2 linked regions of the Homo sapiens genome follow. The protein of the gene in region 2 purifies or fractionates together with the protein of the main gene of each other region. This does not show direct contact. Each region holds a gene or a part of one and is shown on either strand. Other genes may lie near its edges.

Region 1 (4,019 bases), on a different chromosome or scaffold from region 2:
TTGAAAAAAATCGGGCTTAAGGAGGAAGCTTCCATCTGTGTGGGTTCCTCCATGAGGCATGCCTGACCTCCTTTTTGTAGCGAGAGCCTTACTCTATAGGCTTGGAGCAACTCATTTCCCCACAAATACTGCTTTGGCTACAACCCATTGATCTTGATATGTAGTATCTGTTTTTTCTTTCTTTTTTTTTTTTTCTTTTTTCTTTTTTGAGACGGAGTCTCCCTCTGTCGTCCAGGCTGGAGTGCAGTGGCGCGATCTTGGCTCACTGCAAGCTCTGCCTCCCCGGTTCATGCCATTCTCCTGCCTCAGCCTCCTGAGTAGCTGGGACTACAGGTGCCCGCCACCACGCCCTGCTAATTTTTTGTATTTTTAGTAGAGACAGGGTTTCACCCTGTTGGCCAGGATGGTTTTGATCTCCTGACCTCGTGATCCGCCCGTCTCGGCCTCCCAAAGTGCTGGGACTACAGGCGCGAGCCACCGTGGCTGGCCTGTAGTATCTATTTTTTCATTGAAAACACTGTTTTAACAGCCTAGATGTATGCCTACCTGTTATTAGAAGAATAAGCTTAATATTCCAAGTGTCTAGGTTTCTTTAGTCATAGCTTGTTATTCCCAATTTTATTACATTTTGCTTGAGAGGTCCTGGTACATACAGGTAATTACATACAGGTAATTGTTTTTGCATTTACTTTCCTCATGGCCTTGTGTTTGATTAGTTATGACAAAAGGCACCCACACTTTTTATGAGTTATTTCCGGAACTCACAATTTAGGATGGTCTAACATAGAATCTCGGTTGTTTTTTTTGTTTGTTTTTTGGGGTTTTTCTTGAGATGGAGTCTAACTCTGTCGCCCAGGCTGGAGTGCAGTGGTGCAATCTTGGCTCACTGTTACTTCCGCCTGCTTGATTCAAGTGATTCTCCTTCCTCAGCCACCCAAGCTGGGCAGTCACCACCATACCCGGCTAATTTTTGTGTTTTTAGTAGAGATCAGGTTTCACCATGTTGGCCAGGCTGGTCTTGAACTCCTGACCTCAAGTGATCTGCCCACCTCGGCCTCCCAAAGTGCTGGGATTACAGGTGTGAGCCACCGTCCCTGGCTGGAATGTCAGTTTTTAATGTTCTTATAGGATATTAATGTTTTGGGCCTGTCTTTGGGAGTCCAGTACTTATGACTGTTCAAGGGCTACAGCCAGTGTGAAAACTCTGATACCGTGCCCGTCATCAGCATATCCAGCAGCAGGAGGGTTGTGGGAGGGGTGGTGGCGCGGCTTCCTCTCATGCAGATCTGGAAACAGGTATGCTCGTTCGCTACACTGAAGGGGGGGCCCTAACTTTGAATATATTTCAAAGGATTGTCAATCAAAGGATTTGGGAGCAGTAAGGGGTATTGGTGACTGCTGTACGGAAGATTGCTCAGAAAAAAGAAAGACTTTGTTGAACTAGACAGCTCATATTTTAGGTCATCTCAGCCAATCTGGTTCATAAAGAAAAATTACCCCAAAGGAGCATTTATTTTAGTTGTTTTTAGCTTAAGTATTTGGTTTATGTACTTAGTCAAATTTAAAATGTTTCCTTTTCATGATGAACTTTGGCATTCTCATTGTGGGAGGTGAGTTTCTGTGCACAGAGCCCCAGTGGACAGCATTTTACCTGTAGGGAATAAAGGGGCCCAACTTTTCATTTGAGGAAAACTTTTTTGTTTGTTTGTTTCGAGATGGAGTCTCACTCTGTCGCCCAGGCTGGAGCGCAGTGGCATGATCTCGGCTCACTGTAACTTCCTCCTCCCGGGTTCAAGCAGTTCTGTGCCTCAGCCTCCCAAGTAGCTGGGATTACATGTGCCCACCACCATGCCCAGCTAATTTTTGTATTTTTAATAGAGACGAGGTTTCACCATCTTGGCCAGACTGGTCTTGAACTCCTGACCACCTGCCTTGGCCTCCCAAAGTGCTGGGATTATAGGCATGAGCCACCGCGCCCGGCTGAGGAAAACATTTTTTAAACTTAATGCCACATTGGCTTAATTTGGTAACTTAATATAGCAGCAATATCAACTTAATACGGTACCAGTATGAAACTTTCTTTTTTAGAGAGATTGTTTCCTTATCGTAGGGCATTTAGGAATCCTACTGCTTCTCCATTTCTTCAGTTTTCAGTCATATTTCTTGTGTACGTTTTGTTGATTTGTAATTCACACTACACATTTATATATATTTATTCAATAGTTTTAAAATTATTTTATATGCCTTTTATCACAATATGGTGCCATTCTTGTATGTGTTCCGTTTCAGTGGTTCATTTGTTTTCTTCTGCTTGGTTCCTTTTTTACTTTGCAAAACTTTGTTGAGCTCAGATTACACTGCAGTGGAGTAGGAGGGAATTCCCCATTCTTTCTCAAACTTAGGCTAATTTGTGCTGCTATTGTTGGGTATTTTCTTAGTATCCAGACTTTTTTTTTTTTTTCTATTTTAAAGGGATTTCTTCAAAAGTTGCCACCCCCAGAAGTTTTATATTTCTTTTTCTTTTGGCTTAAAATCATGTTCTTTTTAGAATATAAGCTGTGTCCTTGGGTTTGTGTGTATCTGAGTTCCCTGTAATATAAGTGTAGTCTATTGCAGTTGTTTTGATATTTTGTCTTTCGCAGGATGCACACGGTTGGTTTAGCCTGATATGAAGTCCACTCACTCGGTCTGTGGCCAGACCCCCCATGCCTGGCCTTTGTCTACTTCTGCAGGGTTATCTCTGATTGCAGGCACACACCTACCACATCATGTGGCATTTTACATTATTTTGTTAAATGTCTGCGTCTTCACCTAGGGACGGTCATTTAGTTCATCTGTGAATCCTTTGAATCACAGTACATAGAACATAGTAGGTGCTTAGTATATACTTGCTATGTGGACACTCAACAGAGTTGTGTTGGACTTTTCTTTCCTCAAATGTAAGAGACCAGGCAACATAATGGTTACAAATTAAGTTAGAAGATGGAGGAGTGCTCCCTCTATTGTCATTTGAGAAGCCATTTTTCCAAGCTTGGAGGGTATCTCTTTAAAAAAAATTTTTTTTTTAATTGATGTAAAGGTTTTTGAAAGCTGAGTTTTGTCTCCAGTGGATTGTAAGCTTTTGAGGCCAAGGCCATGTCTTAGTGCCACCTCTGTTTCATCTCCTTTGTCCCTACACAGGTAGTAGGTCCTCCATTCTTGCTGATTATGAATAAAGCAAAGAAATACATGTACCTCTGCTGTATGAATTAGAAGCTTTGTGTTTGTTATTATTAGACTAGGAGCATGTTACAGGCACAGAGCATATTGTGTTTATCTCTGTAGCCACAGCATGTAGTGTAGTACCTGAATTTTAGTGGGAATTTGGTAACTTCTGGTAGTTATGTTGATTAGTCTCCTTGGAAGAAAGTAACTTTATAAGCTACGGATGTTAAATGGTGAGATCATAAATTGGCTGAATCTCCAGGCATGGTGGCTCACACCTGTAATCCCAGCACTTTGGGAGGCCAAGGGTGGCGGATCACCTGAGGTCAGGAGTTTGAGACCATCCTGGCTAACGCGGTGAAACCCTGTCTCTACTAAAAATACAAAAAATTAGCCGGGCGAGGTGGCGGGCGCCTGTAGTCCCAGCTACTCCGGAGGCTGAGGCAGGAGAATGGCGTGAACCCCAGGGGGCGGAGCCTGCAGTGAGCCGAGATTGCGCCACTGCACTCCAGCCTGGGCGACAGCGAGACTCCGTCTCAAAAAAAAAAAAAAAAATTAGCCGGGCGTGGTGGCATGTGCCTGTAGTCCCAGCTACTTGGGAGGCTGAGGCAGGAGAATCGCTTGAACCCGGGAGGTGGAGGTTGCAGTGAGCCAAAATCGCACCACTGCACTCCAGCCTGGGCGACAGGGTGAGACTCTGTCTGATAGATAGATAGATAGATAGATAGATAGATAGATAGATAGATAGATAGACTGAAACTGTGAGCCACGTACATTTGAAAAGTTAGTGTTATTTGAACGTACAATTGACAAGA
Region 2 (4,207 bases):
TAAATCTCTGCCCTCACAATAACTAGCACTAGTCACACATAAGAGAAACTCGGTGACTCCAGGGACTGCCTTAGGAGAAAGTTTCTGGAAGTTCTGACATTCCAGAAACTTTCTCCTAAGGCAGTCCCTGGGAGTCACTGAGTCAGTCCATTTCCGTTATTTTTTTGGAGGCAGCCCTAACTCCACAGATGTATTCCACTATCAGATACACCAGATGTTTATACAAAAATGTTTTCGTGATATTTTAATCGTCTTAATAGCCTTTCAACAGGTTCTCATGGTTCTTAGAAGACAAATTCTTTACTATGGCCTAGTAATCCAGTTGGTCCCAGCTCATTTCCCACCCTCACTTAGGATGTTCTGGCCACATCTGCCCTCTAGCTGATCCTTGAACACCCTAGGCTTACTCCATCCTCGGGTCATATTTCCCTCCAACTGGAATGCCCCTCTCACATCCTAACAGGCTAGGCTCAAACACCGCCTCCTAAGACAGCCCTTGTCTTGAGTCCTCTGCTTCTCCCAGTACTCCACTGTATTCATAGCATAGCACTTCCCCACCACCCCAAATTCTCCCTGCTTTCTTTCCAAGTGAGTTGTCTCCTCTAGACTGTGAGCTTCTTGAGAACAGGGACTGTGTCTGCTTCTAGATGCATCCCCACTGCCTAGAACCGTGTCTGACACAGAGCAAGCCAGCGACCTCCGGGCTGCGGCTTTGAGGCCCACGGCGCTTTCGGTGTAACTGCGCGAACCAACTCCTGAACAGCCCGCTTTCCTGGGTCTCGAGGCCAAGGGCCTCTTTTCTCCCAGAGGGCCTCCGTCGGGAGTGCTGGCCGCTCATCCTGCCGAGTCACAGGTGAGGTTTAGGATTCTCCGCCGCGGTGGACCTCCACGAGACCGCGAAGCAGGTGAACGTCCTCCCGCGGAACCTGAGCTGCCAAGGGCTGGGGAGGGGAACAGAAGCTGGCGTCGGCTGCCTCCAGAACCTGTCAGGAGTCTTTTATGTGGACTATGGAGGTGAGGTGTCGGTCAAGGAGGTGGGCCCTGACTCGGAGCAGTGAGAGAGAGCAGAAAACCAGTCACCGCAAAACGGCTTCCAAAGAACCAACTGGAAAACTCACCGGAAAGCGTAGGCTGCCCAGACGCCCCGAGGGACCAAAGCTGAAGGGAGGAGCCCTCGTAAGCAGACAAGAGTGCGCGCGTCGAGCTTGCGCAGCCGCAGTAGAAGCCGCACGCTCTTCGGCAGGCTGCGCAACCGCAGTGGAGGCCTCGTGTGCCCGGGGTGGGGCACGAAACTGGGCGGAGCTAGGCCCCCTCGCGCGCTGACGCGACTGGTCGCGGCGGAAGGGTGTAAGCACGCAGGCGCGATGGTGGCTCGGGGGGGCAGGGAGGCGGGGCCGCGCAGGCGCTGTGAGAGGCGGTAGCGGCGGCGGCGGCGGTGGTATCGGCGGCAGCTGTGAGGGGGTTCCGGGAAGATGGTGCTGATCAAGGAATTGTGAGTGGGTCTGTGGGCGCGAGCGAGGCCGTGGGACGGCAGTGATGGGAGATTTGTTGATGGAGAAGTGGTAGGATATTCCTAAATCGGAGTCAGCCCTGTGTCAGCCCCTCCCTGCGGGCGCCCCCTCCCTCCCCCGGCCCCTTCGAAGCCCCTCAGCGAGTGCGCCCCTCGGCCCTCCAGGCATTGCCGTGGTAACACGCCCTCTCCCTTCCCCGGGGCGAAGGCGGCTGGGTCCCGGCCCGAGCGCATGGCTCGGGAAGGCGCGGCCGGGAGTTTCCGCTGGGACCCGCCTTCTCCCCAACCCCCCACCCCCAGGCTGGGTCTGGGCCCACCCCCAGGCCCGCCGGTGGGAAGGAGCCGCAGTCCGAGGGTGGGAGAGACACGTTGGTTCTGACTGTGATTTGTCGTCCGGGGTGGAGTCCCCTGGTAACCAGCGGGAGATGGGCTTGCCGGTTGAAGGCAGCCCTCGTGTCAGGACTCGCGGTGGGACGCTGGCGCCTTGAAGTTCGTGGTGGAGCCGGGATTCCGGAAAGCCTCCGCTCTCCTGGGCAGCTCCGCTGACTTGACGGGAGAGCCTTTTCTCTTTTTGGTTTCCGCATGTTTTAAGATGAGGTGACATCCCGGGCCCCACCTACTTTCTTAGAAGTTAACACGTGCTCTGTCAAATGGAGGGATTTCGAGGTGCATCCGACTGGCCAAGTGATTTTGTTGAAAAGTCACGGCTTTTCCTACTGGCAAGGACTGTAAACATTACGGAAATCTGCTTGCCTCTGAATGTTCGTCTGTCACAGCTGGTTCGTGTCGTCAGCATCCTTTGGGCAGCTAGGGAGGTCGAGTATGGCCCATTCGTTGGTTTTCAAATTCTTCATTTTAAATTCTTAGAAATATTTTTGGCTTAATTTAGCTTTTTTCAGACACCTTATTTTTAGTGTTCTTAAACCTCCTTTAAAAAGTCACTGATGCACTTCTCTGAGACTTAATACCTCCCAAAGACTCCCTGTCTCACCCAGAATAAAAGTCAAAGCCTCTGCAACAGCTACAAGGCTTTACACTTTTTTTTCCTGCCCTGATCTCATTTACTACCTTTTCCTTGCCCATTCCATCTTCGCAAGCTTCCTTGCTGTTCCTCTGCTACTCTAGAATAAGTTCAGTTCAAGACCTTTCCACCTGCTTTTGTTCCCTTTGCTTGAAGTGTTCTTCCCTTGGCACACTAACTCACCTTCTTCCAGGTCTTTGCTCAGACGTCACCTTCTCAGGGAATCCCTTTCTGAAGACCTAATTGTAGTTCCCACTATTTGGGGTGGTATTTGTCTTCCCTGCTTTATCGGTCTCCATAGTACTTATCACCATCCAACATGCCAATACAATTTATTATTATTATTTTTCTCCTACTAGTTGTGTTCTCTTTTTACATGTAAGGGCCATGAGTTTGTTTTGCTCACTCTCATATCCCCAGTTTTTAGAATAGTCCCTCGCATGTAATAGGTGCTCAGTAAATATTTGTTAATGAATTGATGAAAAATGATAACTTTGGTCAGTGACAGGGATTTTGAGAAGAGACATTTTGCCTTTTTTTGGTAGAGTGAAAATTCTCAATTAAAGCTTATTTATAGTACTGAATATTGGGTTTATATAAAACTTTTCTTCCAAGTCGTTTATACAGTGTATCAAACAAGTGTTCATTACTCTGACTTCTAGATGATGTGGGTAGATGGGTGGCAGACACTAAAACAAATGGAGAAAATAAGAAGGAAATTGACTTGGACCAAGTTACACAGCAAGTGAGTTGCAGAACTGATTTTAAATAGATCCAGTCATTTTTCTTTCATTGGAGTATTTCCTCCCTCCAAAAGTGTTACAGACACACAGTATTCAGTAGATCCCTTTGACAGTATGTGAGTAGTATGAAGCTAACTCTTGGAAAGCAGTTCCTATTGGGAATTTGCGCACTGTGCTTTTTGCAAACATTTGCTTTCATTATGAAGATTTAAATGTACCCAGATAATGAATGTTGACACGTGCCCAAAGTCTAATTATTTTTCCCAAAGAGTTATAAATTAAGTTTCTTGATGTTAACTCTTCATGTGTATCTCCCCTAGATTTTTTTTCCTCCTAGACTTTTTGAAGGTAGAAGCTGTTTCTTAAGTAATGTCGGTATCTAGCACAGCATCTAGGCCTAACATGCTCTAAAGAATTCAGTGTTGTTCAATGAAAAATTGATACTTCTTACTCTCAAGTCAACTTTCTAAAATTCTTGTTGGTTAGGAGCAATGAATAGCTTATTCCTATGTGAAGATATTGGTAACTAAAATACTTTGGCAAATGTTTGTTGTCTTATAAAATTCTTTTTTATTTTTATGTTTTTTTTTTGAGGCGGAGTCTCTGTTGCCCAGGCTGGAGTGCAGTGGCATGATCTCTGCTCACTGCAACCTCCGCCTCCCAGGTTCAAGCGATTTTCCTGCCTCAGCCTCCCAAGTAGCTGGGACTACAGGCGCACGCCACCATGACCGGCTAAATTTTTTGTATTTTTAGTAGAGACAGGGTTTCACCCTGCTGGCCAGGCTGGTCTGGAACTCATGACCTCAGGTGATCCGCCCACTAAGTGCTGGGATTACAGGTGTGAGTCACCGCACCTGGCCCTCTATTTATTTTTTTATAAGAATTAAAATGTTAGAAATGACTTTCGAGGTGGGCTGTTTCCCTTCAAGTTAT

The links.
Region 1: the proteins of PITPNB (region 2) and HSDL1 purify together in Homo sapiens (affinity purification with mass spectrometry; one large-scale study listed by BioGRID and IntAct). This does not show direct contact.

What each region holds. Positions count from the first base shown.
Region 1 is NC_000016.10:84,131,422-84,135,440, reverse strand, and holds part of HSDL1 (inactive hydroxysteroid dehydrogenase-like protein 1), read left to right. Parts: intron 1-4,019.
Region 2 is NC_000022.11:27,916,457-27,920,663, reverse strand, and holds the start of PITPNB (phosphatidylinositol transfer protein beta isoform), read left to right. Parts: upstream 1-1,407; 5' UTR 1,408-1,472; coding exon 1,473-1,492; exon of another isoform or gene 1,493-1,536; coding exon of another isoform or gene 1,537-1,562; intron 1,563-2,254; exon of another isoform or gene 2,255-2,269; coding exon of another isoform or gene 2,270-2,289; intron 2,290-4,207. UniProt on the Homo sapiens protein: Catalyzes the transfer of phosphatidylinositol and phosphatidylcholine between membranes. Also catalyzes the transfer of sphingomyelin.